Linked DNA regions of Homo sapiens: all the other regions are linked to region 4. Evidence: fine-mapped expression QTL. A gene starts in region 4. Each other region holds a variant in brackets. All regions are shown on one strand. Distances are from middle to middle.

The links. PIP is the estimated chance that this variant, and not a neighbour inherited with it, causes the effect. A credible set is the group of variants that fine-mapping cannot tell apart.
Region 1: its variant is the best candidate, but not a certain one, in a credible set for the expression of SF3B6 in monocytes (Fairfax 2014, PIP 0.50).
Region 2: its variant is the best candidate, but not a certain one, in a credible set for the expression of SF3B6 in monocytes after interferon gamma (Fairfax 2014, PIP 0.69).
Region 3: its variant is the best candidate, but not a certain one, in a credible set for the expression of SF3B6 in whole blood (INTERVAL, PIP 0.81).

Annotation. Positions count from the first base shown.
Region 1 is chr2:23,541,424-23,545,892 of GRCh38, reverse strand. All of the region lies in intron 2 of KLHL29 (kelch like family member 29), which reads right to left. Among named protein-coding and RNA genes, the nearest start is that of LINC02923, 160 kb to the right of the region's middle. RefSeq lists an enhancer at 127-628. The variant C/T (reference allele first, on the strand shown) is at 1,990.
Region 2 is chr2:23,593,675-23,598,143 of GRCh38, reverse strand. The region is part of intron 3 of KLHL29 (kelch like family member 29); the gene reads right to left. Among named protein-coding and RNA genes, the nearest start is that of LINC02923, 210 kb to the right of the region's middle. The variant G/T (reference allele first, on the strand shown) is at 2,489.
Region 3 is chr2:24,039,398-24,043,866 of GRCh38, reverse strand. It overlaps WDCP (WD repeat and coiled coil containing), which reads left to right. Exons shown (of 4, transcript NM_025203.3): 2 at 4,355-4,469. The coding sequence starts at 4,373. It also overlaps a transcript of FKBP1B not described here. Among named protein-coding and RNA genes, the nearest start is that of WDCP, 5.8 kb to the left of the region's middle. The variant G/C (reference allele first, on the strand shown) is at 1,746.
Region 4 is chr2:24,073,972-24,078,393 of GRCh38, reverse strand. It overlaps SF3B6 (splicing factor 3b subunit 6), which reads left to right and starts at 2,068. Exons shown (of 4, transcript NM_016047.4): 1 at 2,068-2,194; 2 at 4,200-4,318. The coding sequence starts at 2,165. TP53I3 (tumor protein p53 inducible protein 3) reads left to right here. Exons shown (of 5, transcript NM_004881.5): 5 at 633-961. The coding sequence ends at 815. It also overlaps a transcript of FAM228B not described here. RefSeq lists a silencer at 1,194-1,843 and enhancers at 1,954-2,183, 1,718-2,249, 2,250-2,782.

The sequences.
Region 1 (4,469 bases), 530 kb after region 4:
GCGGGAGGAAGGGAGTCCAGAGAAAGCTGTGTTCCCCACCTGAGGCTGGGGGGACTCTGGTGTCAGATGCCAACCTGGCACCATCAGGATGGCCTTCAGGGGCTAGAATAAAAGGAACTCAGTATTTTTCACGCCCGAGAAGAGGACTGGGCTGGCACCCACTCCCTGGCTACAAAGGAAATGACTCGTCCCCAGGAGCAGTGTAGCCGGGGCCTAATCACCCCATACTCCAGGGCCTCCTGCCTAGAGGAAGTGCCTGGCAAATTTCACTATGAAATCAGAGATGGAGATGCCAGCACCCCCTTTCGCTTACCACGAGGTGGTGCCTGCATCTCTCTCCACACCCCTGAGCTCTGCGGGTGTCAGCCTCCTGGCCTGGGGACACCCCACCCCGAGGACGCCAAGCCTTCCTTACCCAGCTGCAAACAGGCAGCAGAAAGGGGAAGCAGGGAGCATTTACGGAGCACCGACAGCATGCCTGCTACTCTGCAAGTCACTTAAACTGCGTGTGTCATAGCACTGCCTCCACTTTATAGAAGGGGAAACTGAGGCTCAGTGATGCGGTGGCTTGCTCAAGGCCACTTGGGGGAAGTGGTGGTGCTTGGAAGGAGGCTCTTGTGCCCGACTCTGAAGCCAGTGCTCTTCTTTCTCTATCTTTTCCTGGACTCATGACCAGCCCTGGCCTGCAGACCTTTCGTCTCTCACTCACAAATGCTTCTTATACATTCAGCCTCCTCGGCTGGCAGCTGTGTTTCCTCCTAACACCAACCACTTCTTCCCACGTCCACCCTGGCCTGGGCCTCTGTCATCTCTCAGCTGGATTTCTGCCACAGCCTCCTAAACACGTCTCCTTCCTTCCTTCCTCACCCTCATTCAGAGTATTCTCCACCCAGCAGCCAGAGTGATCCTGTTAAAACACAAGCCAGATCATCTCTCCCAAGTCCCTGCAATGGCTCCCATCCTACCCTAAGAAAAAGCCAAAGGCCTTCTTCTTAAGACCCATGAGGCCCTGGTGCTCACTCCCCTCTCTTGTTTGGTCTCCCCCTGCCCCTCTGTTCCAACATGCTGGCCTCCTTGCAGCGGCTCCATCACTTTAGGCCCCATTCTACCTCAGGACCTTTGCACACACTGCTCCCTGTGCCGGGCCCATCCTCCCCACTATCCACACGGCCAGCGTTCTTATTGCCTTCCAGCCTCTTCTCAAATGTTGCCTTCTCAGTGAGGCCTTCTCTGCCCATCCTATTGTAAAATGGCAACTTCTTTCTCTGCTTTCTTTCCCGCTCACTCTCATTGCCTTCTCTTGGCCTATATAGTTTACTTACTTAGATTTCTGTGTGTCCCCTCTCTGGAGTGTGAGTTCCCTAAGGGCAGTGCTTCTAAACACAGACTCATTTAATCTACATAACAATTCTGTGAGGCAGCTGTTCCGATGGCTATCTCCATCTTCCAGATTAGGAAACTGAGGCACAGAAAGCTCAAGCAATTGGCCCAAAGTCTCCCAGCTAGAAAGTGGCAGAGGAGGATTCACGCCCAGGCAGCGCAGCCCCGGAGACCTGCTCTCAGGCACCACAGTCTCCACCTGCCAGCTCGGTTCAATGCTGTATCTTGGCCCAGGCAATACCCGGCCTCTGGTAGGGCTCCGTAAATAACGAGTGAATGAAGCACGCTGCAATCCCACATCACCGTGGTTCTCGTGCCCGTCTTCTCTCCCCACAGACGGGCAAGATCCTGGACTCAGGCCTGTTCTTCCCTCCTTCCCTGCCCCACCCACCAGACTGCCCCTATCTGATGGGGGCAGCATCAGTCAGGTTATGTCAAAGAAATGAATTATTCCCCTGGGTCTTAAAGCGGTTGCTTTTGCCAGCGGCCATGGGGAAGGGGCAGTTCAGGCCAGTTGCACAAATGTCTCCTACTCTCCCTGTCCAGCAAGCCCCGACCCAGAGCCCTGGAGAGTCCACCTGGTGGACCTGGGAGATGACATCACCAGCC[C/T]GGGGTGGGCAGGCTTGCCAGTTCCCCCAGCCCCAAGCATCCTATTCATAATGCACCAGCATCTGGAGTGGTGGAGGGAGCAGCCAGCTCTCCCCCAGGAGCGTACACATCCACGACGCAATTCCTCCGAGGAAAATTACTCAGGCAGCCATTTATTAAAACACAACTGCTCCCGAGGAGGCCTTTCGGCAGTGGAAATACCAAATAGCTTTGAAGCTCCAGCCGTCCCAGAAACCGATGGAGCAGGCTCCTAGGCACTATCTGACTTCTAATCTGCTTGTTCTTTCCCCCATCTGGAAGGTCTAATGAAACGTTACACTGCAAGGAAACACGGAAATCAGTAACTTCAGAGGGCAGGGACATAGATTTCATTTCTTGCCTTGGTCTGCTATTTGCATAAACCTCAAGGGAATATCCGGGAGAAGAAACAAGAAAAATAACAATATCCCCCTACCTACTGGGGGTCAGGCACTGTGCTTGAAGAATGATGACATTTTACATTTAACCCTCCCGCACATCCCGGGGAGGGACTTTTCATCACCATCTCTGTGGCAGAGGTCGCCGGCGCTGCCCATGTCTGTGCCCTCCTCTTTCTTGGGGACCACAGCTGGACAACACTCTCCAGCTCCCCTTTGATTCTAGCTGGAGCCGTGTAATGAGTTCTTGCCGACATGTGCAGAATGTGTGTGCGAGTGACTCGGGTCCCTCTAGACCATGTGGTTAGAGCAGAGATGTCTTCTTCATCTCTCTTTCCCTGTCCACTGCAGAGGAGGATGAGGCGCAGACGGCAGGGACACACTGCACAAGGAGGCTTGGTTCTTCTCGGGCTCCTGGAGCAGAGCTGCTTCTCACTGACCCATCCCACACCGTGACTTGAGAAGGAAGCTACATGATTAAGCCACTACAGTTTGGGGTGGTTTGTTCCAATAGTTAGCCTGCCCCGACTAATGCAATCTTAATTTCCCAGGGGAGGAAGCAGAAGCTCAGACAGTTGGGAGTGACTTGCCCAAGGTCACAAAGAGCCTGGATCCAATGCAGCAGGAGCTGCCTGAGTGGTAACTAGACCTGGTTCCTTCCCCAGGTGTCCCTGGTGAAAGGCCCAGGTGGCTGCTATGAGATCATCTTCCAGGTTCAACTCCCCGGGGCTGAGCAACTTGTAGTTGGTCCAGGTGAGGCTCTCTGAGGGTTCAGGCAGAAGCCTGCCCCTCCTCTGCAAGAACGATCTCTCTCTGGCCTCCACCCTGGGGAGAGAATGCAGGAAGGACAGTGGCTGGATGCTGGCTCCCTGGAGACTGTCCCCTTCCAAATGCCTGACAAGCCCCGAGGATGGCATGTGCTTTGCAGAAAAGGTCAACTCCAGAAAGTAGGAGACTCAGCAATTCCCCAAATAGCCAAACCCTGAACGCGGGCTGTCCCCATCAGAGCACACATGCCCCATGGAAACAGAACAAGAGATAGAGGGAGAGAACCAGAGACACCAAGGTGGGAGAGCTTCCCCAGCAGACCTGGTTATAGCCAACTGGTGAACCCCTGTGCAGATGGAGCCCTCTCATCTGCACAAGCCTCCCTAGGCATCCAATTTTCCAGGCAGGTGGGTCTACTGGGACTAAAGTAAGTCCTCTAAATGCCTAACTCATTTTTGTTCCTTAACAAATACATGTACCGAAAAAGATGCAATTGAAGAGAGGAAGGGAACAGTATTAACCAGGGAAGAAATATAATTGCTAAATTCTGAGAGGCTATTTTAGACAAGAGATCAAAGGGTTGGAAATTAAAAGAAAACAAAACACTGCCACCACCCTGGTTGCCTGACTCAGCCCTTTAGACTTCTTAATGCCATTTCCCAAGGCCATCAGTATGACGACAATGACTTAACAACAGGCAGCACACAGCCCAACCCCTCCCAGGAGAGCTAATTACTTCCCAGGATTAATTCTTCAGTTTTCTAGACAGTTTGAGCAGCTGCACCACTACGGCCATTGCCAGAAACAAGAGCTTCTGGATGGAAGACACACCTACTGTTTCCCAGGATCTGGACTTGGGGCCTCAATCCACAAATCATCTCACACAAGAAGGCACCAGCCCTGCTGCTGTCCACTGGGAGCACCAGTTTTATGGTTTTTTTTTTTTTGTTTTTTGGGTTGGGCTTTTTTAAAAGCTCTTTAAAAAATCCTGTTTTCGATTGCGAGGGACTTGAGAAAGAACGGTGAATGCACTGTGTCCGAGACCAGCAATCTGGGAAGGGTTGCTGCCTCTGACACCCAGATGAGATCACCCTGCATTGCTGGTTAGCTCCTGTCTTACCTTCCAGCTACAACAAAGAGATGCACAGAGCTGCCGCTCACTTTCAGCCCACCAGCCAGCCCTGGCCAGGCACTCAGCACTGTGCTGGGGCTGTGAGTGCTGGCAGAGATGGATTTGGCTGAGGACTGCCCTCAAGGAGCCCATGGTCTGGCAGGGCTGAACCAATCCTCAAGAAG
Region 2 (4,469 bases), 480 kb after region 4:
CTGTGCCTCTTATTACCAACCTCTTAGGTACTCAGGCTGGTTATTATTTGTACCCAGGACACCGTTTCCAAACCCTTGAACTTCAGAGCGGCCCAGCCTCATCTCTCACTGACTTTCGGATGCCTCCAAGCCCTGCAGAACCAAGTGTTCCCTGGATGGGAAGGGGGCCTTACTCCTGGCACCAGCTCCAGAGGCATCCTGTGCATCTCTCCCACTGAGATGGAGGAGTGAGGGGGACCAGCCCAGAGGCCATGAACGGGCAGGGTTGCGGAAAGACCACAGGTCGGGGATGGGGACCAGGAAGATGCATCTTCTCTGCAGAAGAACCTACAAGAGCTCCCCATCTCCTTCCCTAGACTGAGAGCATGTCAGGGCTAGAAGGAACCTTACAGAGCCTCATTTTAGAGACGGGTGAACAGGGCCGGGCACGGTGGCTCATGCCTGTAATCCCAGCACTTTGGGAGGCCAAGGCGGGCAGATCACTTGAGGCCAGGAGTTCAAAACCAGTCTGGCCGACACGGTGAAACCCCGTCTCTACTAAAGATACAAAAGTTAGCTAAGCATGGTGGCACAATGCCTATAATCCCAGCTACTTGTGAGGCTGAGGCAGGAGAATCACTTGAACCTGGGAGGCAGAGGTTGCAGTGAGCCAAGATTGTGCCACTGCACTCCAGCCTGGGTGACAGAGCGAGACTCTGTCTCAGAAAAAAAAAAAAAAAAAAAAAAAAAAAAAAAATATATATATATATATATATATATACACACACACACATATATATATACATACACATATACATACACACACACACACACACACACACACACACACACACATATATATATATATGAGAGAGAGAGAGATAGATTGAGAGCGAGATGGGTGAACAGACACGTAGCAAGTTTGCAACCTGGCCCAGAGGAAACAATGCCCTCATCAGACTCTTCCCAGAGATGTGACCTCAATCTCTCTACCTATTATATTGGAAAAATGATAAGCAAATGCCTGCCTAATTGTACCTTTTTAAAAGACAGTCTTCCCTGAACACTTATAAAATATGTGGGCCTGGGTTTCAGAGAGAGCTTGTCCCCCAAAAGCAGAGCCCTCTATATAAAGCAGCAAGCGATCCAGCTCTGAAAAGTATTTTGCTTCTCTTTTCAGTGGGAAGAGACTTCACCATTAGCTCTATTTGATTCTAAACGCAGCCCTGAGCTTTCCTGTATCCCCAGGCACCTATCTGGCTGGGACCACTCCAGAAGTAGCACTTACATGAGTGCCATGAGTAAGAAGGAGGAAAATCTGAAAAATGGGTAAAGTATGTACCAGGAATCCCTTATTTATTTATGTCCTCCTGGGGGAACCTGTTTCTGAGATGAAGAAAATAATTTCGCCGTTGTGTGTAAGAGATGGCTCTGCCCCAGCATCGGAGTCTTCCTATCGCCCTCATTTAGAGGGAGATGCTTGCAGGATAGGGGTTAAAGGCGTGCTAAAGAGGCACATTCCCACGATGGCAGCATACGTCCCCAGACATGATGTGTTCCCGCCAGCACAATCTCATCTTCCATTATGGAGAAGGATGACTCAGCGTGAGGTCTATTTTCTGTTTAGACTTAAGCCACGTTGTGTGCAAGGACAGTGTGGCATGGCCCCTGATAAATCACAGCGAGCCTCCTAGTGACTCTGTTCTGCTCCAACGTGAGTGCGCTTATGAAACGGGTTCCTTCCTCTCCCCTGGGATGCAGCCACCAGGACACCAAGACCTCTGCTCGGAGACAGAGACTCATAGGGGCGTGTTGGTAGCTGAAGCCTGGAGGAGAACTCAAGAAAACCCTTGCAAAATGAGGTGGGCATGATTTAAATCCACTACATTTTTAATCTGCCAACAACCCTAAGGGATAGGGCTGCAGCTGCCTGGCAGGGTCAAAGCAGATGGCAGCAGGGTACAAGGCTGTTGCCCTGCCCCGCCCCCGGCCTGCCCGTCCGGCTGGCTGCCGAGGGTGCTCTATTGTATGCGGCTCAGTTCAAACCACCAACAGACCCAGCTTCTCCATGGCAACCCCAAGCAGGCCGTGCATTCCAGAGGCTATGCTGGCAGCAAATGTGGACCCAATGCCACAAAACGGTGTCCTCCTGACAAACCACGGGGAGTGTGAAAACCTTCTGGAATGCTTCTGAGGAAGAAGCCCGCCCAGGACTAGCTGGGGATGGGATGGGGATGCAGGAGAGTGATTTACAGACAGGGAGTCATGGTGTCTGGAAGGGGCATGCTGCTTGCGTGGGGAGCTCACAATTCACTGGCCTAGCAGCCACCCTGGGAGAGCTGGGATCCTGGTGGAGAGACAGCATGGGAAGGGATGGAGGAGGACCTGCAGAGGGCAGTCTGCAAGATTTGGTGGCTCCAGGGTGTCCAGATGGAGTCCCCTGGCTGTGTGTTGGGGACACTGCCTCCTAGGAGGTCACGTCCTCTGCCCCCCAAGTGACCAGGACACT[G/T]CTCCCCTCTACTTGCACCCACACAGTCACACCACAGCCTGGCAGTGCCCGCTGCCTGCCACCCTTCCTGCCCACTCCTTCTCTGCGTCCATCTCTCATCCTTCTACTGCTGACTGTACCTCTGCCAGTGTCCAGCCCCAGGCCTGTGCAGAGACATCTGCCCACCTTCCCAAGCCTTGGCACAGAGAGGGCAGGTAGGAGAACAAAGGGCTATGCCTTGGGTCAGGAATATCAGCATTTGAACCTGTCACTTGGGTTTGAGTGATCTTGGGCAAGTTAGTTAACATGCTGGGACCTCAGTTCCCTTCTCTGTAAAACAGAGACAAAAATGCTGGCTTTGGTAGGGTTTTGTGGGAGAAACGGGATAGGATTATAATACATGGAAAGGCAAATGACGTTGCAGGAAAGAAGGGTTCCTTCCCCTCTCCTTTCCACACCCCACAGCCACTTCCCACACCCCACAGCCCCTTCCCTTCCCAGGCCCTCTGCGGGTGCCTCTTTCTGGGCGCCTGCAACAGAGAACCAAAGTTAGGAAAAGTGATCCTCCAGAAATGGACAGAGAAGTCCACCAGGATATTCCAAACACTCCGTCTCTGTTGTGGTAAACGATGACTTTAATTTACAAAGCACACGAATACTAAATCTTCATGAAATTAAAAACTATATTATTTATGTGAGCGGAAACGGAAAATGGTCTGTAGCTAGCAGCTATCCTGCTTTGTAGGAGGAACACTAAAATAATTAAAACCACTCGTGCTTCAGTAATAAATAATGATAATAAATAAATGTCCTGACCTTAAGCAAAAATATAAAATTAAAACCCATTTGGTATGTAAATTCATTCAGGACACTAGTGTGTCTCCCAGCCCAAGATGATGTAGAATGGGAGCAGCATTCACTACATGAATTTTGAAAGGAAAAGTCAAAGAACAACAGAGTTGTGTGTGCATTGACTCATTATTCTACTTTAATTCCATCTAATGCTTTGTGGAGCCTGGAGGCTGGGACATTAATTTCCTGCTTTTTCTGTTTCACCAATTCCTCATGGAGACCAGGAGAAAGAATTTCAATCCTGGAGGCTGAAATCAGGGGACAGAGAAAACGGCAGGAGAGATGGAGAATTGAAATGCAGGAAGGCCATTTTTAATGTGTTTACAGAAACACGGTGAAAAGAAGTCAGCGAAGAAGGGCACTGGTGTTGGCCGGGGGTGAGCTCCTGAGTGTCTGGGATTAGAACAATCCAGGAGGAACGAAATGTCCCTGGTCTTGGGTCCAGGTGGGAGCCATTCCAGAGCCCGGAGGAGCCGGGCAGGAAGTCTGCGGGCGCCTCAGACTTCAGGAAAACGCGAATTGGTTCCAGATGGTGACACCTCCACCTCTGAGTGCCCGGCTTTACCATGAAATCGCTGCATGTTCCATGAAGCCAGCGACTCCCCGGAGCACTCCCAAATAAGGCCGGTCTGGTAAACAAGGCAACGCGCCAGGCAGAGAAAACAGAACCTTCCCACCTCTGCTGTATAATCAACTCCTCGACACCCCTGTCATTAAATCCCCTCCTCCAAGGGCTGCCACACCCAGCCTTTCATTTCAGTCTCATAACTACCTTGTGAAGTGGACGAGGAAGAGATGGTTATTCCTGTTTGATAGGCAGGGAAACTGAGGCACAAGGGCTCACAGAGAAGACATGGCAGGGAAATGATCAGACCCTTCTCCCAGGCCCGGGCTCTGTGTAATCAGGGAGGGAGGGGCCCTGAAGGAAAAGCTTGTGGACAACAAGCACGTAGGCGACACGCCTGGCCACAGGGTGCCCTGGCCCTCCCACCTCTTATGTGTAAAATGAGGGTCCTCCCTTAGAATTCACTGCCTTGGAGCTGTGCAGGCTGAGATATCTAAACTGTAAGGGCAGCCCCTGGGAGGGCTTTCCGAGGTGAAGACACTGCATTTCACAGCTGGGTTTTAGGTGTCAAGGCACAGTAGATGG
Region 3 (4,469 bases), 35 kb after region 4:
GGACAAAGCTAGCAAGGAGATATGCGAAATAATTTACAGATAAGCAAATCACCAGGTTGGTAGAGAATACATTTCATTGGATTTAGAGTCTGAAGACAACTTCTCAAGTTCTGCCTTTGACACTTACTCAGTAAAACAAGGCTGAAAAATGTCATTTAGATTCAGTGACAGGGAAGCACTGGTGGCCTGGTGAGAGATGTTTTGGAGAAGAAATTGGAATGGAATTCATTTTAAGTATATTAAGAAGAGAGTGAGTGGTGAAAAATATGAGTACTGCCAGTTTACACAACTATTTGATAACTAATAAGGTTAAACATCACTTTATATATGTTTGTAGATTGTTGGGGGGTTTTTTGTTTTGTTTTGTTTTGTTTTAAGTAGAGACAGTATCTTGCTGTGTTGTCCAGGCTGATCTCTGGTCTCGAACTCCAGGGCTCAAGTGATCCTTCTGCCTTGGCCTCCTAAATTGTTGGGATTACAGGCATGAGCCACTGTGCCTGGCCAACAGTCATTTTGTTTAGTTTTGTTTTTGAGACCGAGTCTCACTCTGTTGTCCAGGCTACAGTGCAGTGGTGCCATCTTGGCTTACCGTAACATCTGCCTCCCAGGTTCAAGCAATTCTCGTGTCTCAGCCTCCCAAGTAGCTGGGATTACAGGAGTGTGCCATCACTCCTGGCTAATTTTTTTGTATTTTTAGTAGAGACGAGGTTTCGCCATGTTGGCCAGGCTGATCTCGAAATCCTGACCTCAGGTGATCCACCCGCCTTGGCCTGCCAAAGTGCTCGGATTAAAGGCATGAGCCACCTGGCCCAGTAATTTTTTTTTTTTTTTTTGAGACGGAGTTTCACTCTTTTTGCCCAGGCTGGAGTGTAATGGCATGATCTCAGCTCACTGCAACCTCCGCCTCCTGGGTTCAAGTGATTCTCCTGCCTCAGCCTCCTGAGTAGCTGGAATTACAGGCATGTGCCACCACGCCCAGCTAATTTTGTATTTTTAGTAGAGACGGGGTTTCTCCATGTTGGTCAGGCTGGTCTCGAACTCCTGATGGTCAGGTGATCTGCCCGCCTCGGCCTCCCAAAATGCTAGGATTACAGGCGTGAGCCGCCGCGCCTGGCTCTGGCCCAGTAATTGTTTTTATACTAAATTTTTTTTTTTTTGAGACAGAGTTTCACTCTTGTTGCCCAGGCTGGAGTGCCATGGCACGATCTCGGCTCACTGCAACCTCCACCTCCCGGGTTCAAGCGATTCTCCTGCCTCAGCCTCCTGAGTAGCTGGGATTACAGGCATGCGCCACCACAGCCAGCTAATTTTTTTTTTTTTTTTTTTTTTTTGAGACGGAGTATTGCTCTGTCACCCAGGCTGGAGTGCAGTGGTGCGATCTCGATTCACTGCAACCTCTGCCTCCAGGGTTCACGCCATTCTCCTGCCTCAGCCTTCCGAGTAGCTGGGACTACAGGCGCCCGCCAACACACCTGGCTAATTTTTGTATTTTTAGTAGAGACAGGGTTTCACCGTGTTAGCCAGGATGGTCTCGATCTCCTGACCTCGTGATCCGCCTGCCTCGGCCTCCCAAAGTGCTGGGATTACAGGCGTGAGCCACTGCGCCCGGCCAATTTTTTGTATTTTTAGTAGAGATGGGGTTTCTCCACGTTGGTCAGGCTGGTTTTGAGCTCCTGACCTCACGTGATCTGCCCTTCTCGGGCTCCCAAAGTGCTGGGATTACAGGCGTGAGCTGCCACACCCAG[G/C]CTTTATACTAAAATTAGTCTTTCTCAGTCTGTGTTTATTATTGCAACATTTTATTCTTATATCCATTATTATATATTTATGTATCCACTGATTGATAGTATTTCAAAATATAATTTTCCTGAGGCAGTTTTTCATTTTACATTAAATAGTATTTTTTATGTTTATATTTCAAAGTGAGTATTCAGGTATTACAGCTTATCCAAATAATGTCCTTATTCTCCCTACTGACTATATGTATCTTTTTTTTTTTTTTTTTTTTTTTGAGACAGAGTTTCACTTTTGTTGCCCAGGCTGGAGTGCAGTGGCGCCATCTGAGCTCACTGCAACCTCCGCCTCCCCTCCCAGGTTCAAGCAATTGTCCAGCCTCAGCCTCCCGAGTAGCTGGGATTACAGGCACCTGCCACCGAGCCCAGCTAATTTTTGTATTTTGAGTAGAGATGGGGTTTCACCATGTTGGCCAGGCTGGTCTCGAACTCCTGACCTCAGGTAATCTGCCTGCCTGGGCCTCCCAAAGTGCTGGGATTACACTTTGGGTGTAATGGGTGTAAGTGCTGGGTGGCTCATGCCTATGAGCCACCATGCCTGGCTACCCCATTTTTTGTTTAAAAGAAAAGCCATAACATGTAAAATCCTATATATCTTTGTGTCTTTCTTTAACATTTTCAGAGGCTAAACACCAAATTGTTAATGATGCTTTTATCAAGGCTTTGAAATGTTGGAAAGGAGGAGGAGCTAAAGGGGCTGGCACTGAGTAGGAGGGAACAGTTTTTTTTTTTTTTTGGAGATAGAGTTTTGCTCCTGTCGCCCAGGCTGAAGTGCAATGGTGCAATTTTGGCTCACTGTAATCTCTACCTCCTGGGTTCAAGTGATTCTCCTGCCTCAGCCTCCTGAGTAGCTGGGATTACAGGCATGCGCCACCATGCCCGGCTAATTTTTGTATTATTATTAGAAACAGGGTTACACCATGTTGGCCAGGCTGGTCTCAAACTCCTGACCTCAGGTGATCCACCCGCCTCAGCCTCCCAAAGTGCTGGGATTACAAGCATGAGCCACCGTGCCCAGCCTAAGCATGTACTTGTTTTTTGTTGTTGTTGTTTCTTTTTTGAGGTGGAGTTTCGCTGTTGTTACCCAGGCTGGAGTGCAATGGCACGATCTCAGCTCACTGTAGCCTCTGCCTCCCCAGTTCAAACGATTCTCCTGCCTCAGCCTTCTAAGTAGCTGGGAGTATAGGCATGCACCACCACACTTGGCTAATTTTGTATTTTTAGTAGAGATGGGGTTTCTGCATGTTGGTCAGGCTGGGATCGAACTCCCAACCTCAGGTGATCCTCCCGTCTCAGCCTCCCAAAGTACTGGGATTATAGGCGTGAGTCACCACGCCCAGCCCTAAGCATATGCTTCTTTAGTGATTCAAATGCCTGGGGGAAAAATATTCAGGGTGAAAAAATGAAGATAATACTTGCCTAACCTACTTTACATTATTTTAAAAGATTATTGTAAGATAAAATGCAATAGGGAATGTGAAAATGTTCTGAAAATTATTAAGTGCTGTTGAATAAGATGAAGTAGAAGTAGAAATAGAAACAGTGATTTTTGAGTGTCATTTCAATAGAGGGATAAAAGCCACTTTGGAAGGATTTGAAATAAGTGCTAATAAAGTCAGAGATGTGCATATCAGTTATTCATTGATTTGGCAGTGAAAGGACGAATAGAAATTAGATGATGGAGGAGACTTTTCTTAAATTTTTAATTGGAAAATTTTCTAACTTAAAAGTTGAAAGTACCATAAATACTAACATAGCCTCAATCTAGACTCTACAATTATTAACATTTTGCTACATTTGTTTTCTTTCTGTGTGTCTATAGAAAATTTGGGTTTTTTTTGTCAAACCATTTGAAAGCACATTGTAGGCATCATGACATTTTACCCCAAGTGCTTCAACATGCTTATTTAAATAATAAGGACCTTGTCCTGCATAACCACAATACCATGTTCACACTTAAGAAAATTAATAACTCTGGCCGGGCGCGGGAGCTCATGCCTATAATCCCAGCACTTTGGGAGGCTGAGGTGGGTGGATTGCCTGAGGTCAGGAGTTTGAGACCAGCCTGGCCAACATAGTGAAACCCCGTCTCTACTAAAAATAAAAAAAAAATTAGCTGGGCCTGGTGGCAGGCACCTGTAATCCCAGCTACTCTGGAGGCTGAGGCAGAAGAATCGCTTGAACCCAGGAGGCAGAGGTTGAAGTGCGCCGAGATTGTGCCATTGCACTTCAGCCTGAGCAACAAGAGTGAGACTCCGTCTCAAAAAAAAAAAGAAGAAAAATAATAACTCTACAATATTTTCTGATATCCATTCCATACTCAGATTTCCCCAGTTCTAAAAATCTTCATTAGGTAGAAGATTTTATTTCTTCAAGATCCAAAGTATATACATTGCATTTGCCTGATAGCTCAGTAGTCTCTTAATTTATAATACTCCCCCTGTCCTTTTGTCTCTCCACATTATTAACCTGGGAAGGGGCTAAGCCGTTGTCTTACCAAATGTCCTACATTCTAGATTTGTCTAGATTTCTCATGGTGTAACTTTCCTTCTTAATCATTTCAGGTAACCTTTATCAAAAGGATGGAGTTGGGAAAAGGAAAACTACTCAGGACTGGACTGAATGCGTTGCATCAAGCAGTGCATCCGATCCATGGCCTTGCCTGGACCGATGGGAATC
Region 4 (4,422 bases):
CATGCCTGGCTTGTATTTTTTATAGAGACAGGTTTTCACCATGTTGCCCAGGCTGATCTCAAACTCCCAGGCTCAAGTGATTCGGCCAAAGTAAGATGCTTTTGTAATTTTTAGACAAAGAACAATAAATTTGAGAAGAAATAAGACAAAATCTGGCTAGGGATAGTAAATTTCTAGGGAAGTCACTAGGAGATATATGGGGGTGGGGGGTGTAAAACTAGTGGAAGATAAGGGTTACTTCCTTAAGTGTATTTATTCAGTTCCATTGCAGCCCCGTTTCCAGTCTCTGGTGATAAGGGCTTTTTGCCCTAGTATGGGGAGGGTACCCCTCTCAGAGGAATCTTTATGACTTGCTACATGCAAGAAGAGACAGGTCAGCTAGCCTTTTCTGAAACTACAATTTCTCCAATGCTTTCACCTCAAAATTAACAATATACCTATCGGACATATTCTGAGATGGCACATGACTCCTTCAAGGGTATTTCACACACATGCTAGGAAGTGAGGGGTTAAGTGTCCCTGTGTGCTTTTTCAGATACGTGGCTTCAGAGAGAGCAAGAAGGCTGAGGAGGATGAGGAGGGCAGGGTGAGGCTCTCTCCCCAGGCTGATGATCTCCTTTCCCTTGTCTTAGTACAAGCAAATGCTGGTGAATGCTTTCACGGAGCAAATTCTGCCTCACTTCTCCACGGAGGGCCCCCAACGTCTGCTGCCGGTTCTGGACAGAATCTACCCAGTGACCGAAATCCAGGAGGCCCATAAGTACATGGAGGCCAACAAGAACATAGGCAAGATCGTCCTGGAACTGCCCCAGTGAAGGAGGATGGGGCAGGACAGGACGCGGCCACCCCAGGCCTTTCCAGAGCAAACCTGGAGAAGATTCACAATAGACAGGCCAAGAAACCCGGTGCTTCCTCCAGAGCCGTTTAAAGCTGATATGAGGAAATAAAGAGTGAACTGGAAGGGTGGCACGCGGACTGGGGCCGCCGCGGCGGGGTTGAGGTGGGAGTCCGGACGGGCGTCGCAGCGGGGATTACTGAGGCCCGATCAGCTGACGCTCAACCTGAGGGCCCCTCCAGGGACGGAGATTCTGGGTATAGTTACAGCGTCAGCCGTGACACAAGCCGCCAGAACCCCACATATTCCGCCTTGCGCACAGCTAGAGGCCCAGGCCCACCACCTCCGGCACCTGCCCGCGCGCCCCGCAACCAGTGGGCACCACAGCAGGCCCCAGCCCTGCCCGCTACTCACCTGGGCCCCACCCCACCTCTCGCCGCCCTCCTCAGGCCCCACCACCTCCCGCTACACATCTGAGCCCCGCCCCACCTCCACCACTTTCCTCAGCCCCAACCACCTCCTGCTACACTTCTGGGCCCCGCCGCACCTCCACCACCCTCCTCAGGCCCCGATCCCTTCCGCTACTCACCTGGGTCCCGCCCCAGCTCAGTCCTCCTCAGGCCCCGCCTTCGCCCGCTACTCACCTGGGCCCCACCCCACCTCTCGCCACCCTCCTCAGGCCCCACCACCTCCCGCTACACATCTGGGCCCCGCCCCACCGCCACCACCCTCCTCAGGCCCCGCCCCTTCCATTACTCACTTGGGTCCCGCCCCAGCTCACCGCCTTGCTCAGGCCCGGCTCCCTCCCGGATACTCACTTGGGCCCCACCCCAGCTCTCCGCACCCTCCTCAGGCCCCGCCCCCTCCCGCTACTCACCTGGGTCCCGCCCTACCTGTCATAACCCTGCTCAAGCCCCGCCTCCTCCGCTCCCCAGTTACTCACCTGAGACCCGCCCCAGCTCTCCGCCCTCCTCAGGCCCCGCCCTCTCCACCCGGGTTCCTCTGCTCAGGGCCTCCCCGACCGGAACATCTCGCCTTTTGGAGGCTACGCCCCGCCCTTTACGGTACAGAGCCCGGAAGTGTCTTGGACTCTCGCCTTTCCATCTTCCGGCCTCGAGTCTCGCTCAGGCTCGGTTTTACCCCGGAGTCTATTCGAAGGGGGCTGCTACGTCAGCGCGTCTCAGCGTAAGACGGCGCTATTCCGCTGTAACAGCTTCCGGCGGGTCCTGGATGTTGATGTCCTGCATCTAACGCGGTGTAACCCCCGAAGCCGAGCGAGCTCCGGAGGAATTTCAGTATCTGCTACGGTAACTTCATCAGCCCGCCAAGATGGCGATGCAAGCGGCCAAGAGGGCGAACGTGAGTATCGGGTGTTCTGCGGAGGGTGGGAGAACTTCGGGTTTGACTTTCTTAGCGGCGTGGATCGGAGCATTCTTGCTCCTCCTCCGTCCCCAGAGCGGAGAACTCCAGAATTCCTATCCTGTCAGCGAAGACACTATCCGGCCCCATCCTCAGAGATATGCTCCTTGAGCCACATTTCTGTCCCCACCCCTTTTGAGAGTTCCTCAGTCTCTACCCTAGTGTCAGTGATAGTGTTACCCCTATAGCCTCTTTGCTTGACCCGCACCTAAGGACCTGGCGTTAGGATTATCTCCTTGACTTAAAGTCGATATCTCAGAAGAGTCCTCAACTAACTTAATGGTTCACCAACAACTAGGACCTGGGATTCCCCTCAGATCATGGTGCTTTTCGGATCCTTCATTAACACATTAATTAAAACAATATTTTTTGAGCACCTACTATGTATTCTGCTTGCCATGTGGGACATAATTCATCAATTATATTTATTGAATAGCTACTATGTGCCAGACACTAGTCTTACGTATTGGGAATACAGCAGTGAATAAAACAAGTCCTTCTGCTTACATTCTAGTGTTTGAGAGTACAGTGTTACGGAAACTTTTAAAAAAAAAAAACTCAAAAAAGAGATTAGTCAACAGTAAAACGCTTAGAGGTGTAAGATGAAGTTAGGCCGAGTGAGGTGGCTCATGCCTGTAATCCCCGCACTTTTGGAGGCTGAGGTGGGAGGATTGCTTGAGCCCAGGAATTCAAGGCTGCCTTGAGCCATGATTGTGCCACTGCGCAGCACTTCAGCCCAGGAGACAGAGCAAGACCCTGACTCAAAAAAAAAAAAAAAAACAGAAAGAAAGAAAGAAAGAAAGAAAAGACAAGCAATTGACCATTGTATATGTAAATGGAGACTTTTGGTGACCTTGATGATAGGAATCATTTCAGTGGATGAAAACTTGATTGCAGTGGGGTGAAAAGATGGTGGAAGTTGAGAAAATGGAAACAGCAAAGACACTCTGTCCATGAGTTCTCATTTAAATAGGAAGTAGGGAAATTGGATGATAGTTGACTTTTTTTTTTGAGATGGACTCTCACTCTGTCACCCAGGCTGGAGTGCAGTGGCACAGTCTTGGCTCACTGCAACCTCTGTCTCCTGAGTTCAAGCAATTCTCCTGCCTCAGCCTCTTGAGTAGCTGGGATTACAGGTGCCCACCACCATGCCCGGCTAATTTTTGTATTTTTAGTAGAGACAGGGTTTCTCCGTGTTGGCCAGGCTGGTCTCAAACTCCTGACCTCAAGTGATCCACCTGCCTTGGCCTCCCAAAACGCTGGGATTACAGGCATGAGCCACCGCACCCGGCCAGATAGTTGACTTTTTAAAAGATGTGTGATATAGGTGTATCTTTATGCCAATGGGAGCAATCCAGCAGAGTGTGCGAAACATGATATGGAAGAAAGATAGGTTGAGTTTAGAAGTGAAGGTTTTGAGTAGATGAAGGTTGGCGTAGTAATAGAGGGAAAGTAGTTGGATATAGATGAAAAGTATTTCAATTGGTCATGTCTATTTTCTCCAAGAAACAAGAATCAGGGTCATCTCCTGGGATGGGCAGGGAAGAGGGTACAGCCCAACTCAGGTGTTAGCAGGAGTGATGGTGGTAAGGTTTGCAAAGGCCTACACCCACCACCATGCCTGGCTAATTTTTTAAAATTTTTGTAGAGATGGGGGTCTCACTATGTTGTCCAGGCTGGTCTCAAACTCCTGGGCTCAAGTGATCCTCCCACTTTGCCTCCCAAAGTGCTGGGATTATAGGGACCAGCCACTGCACCCAGCCTCTGTTGCTTTTTCAAAGATCTGCCCATTTTCAGAAACATCAAATTATACCTCTTATTCTTGGCTTTTTATTATTACGTATCATTAAGAATTTTTTAAAATGCCCCTAATTATAGGGGCATTTAAATTATAATTTTTTAGAATGCCCCTAATTATAATAACAATACGTATTTCTCATTTTAGATTCGACTTCCACCTGAAGTAAATCGGATATTGTATATAAGAAATTTGCCATACAAAATCACAGCTGAAGAAATGTATGATATATTTGGGAAATATGGACCTATTCGTCAAATCAGAGTGTGAGTCTTACTGAGTCATTTAAAGAAAATGATAGCATAATCTGTAATTTCAGAATTATAGCTGACGATGAGGCCACCCTGTGCTGTGTGCAGTGCGACAACCC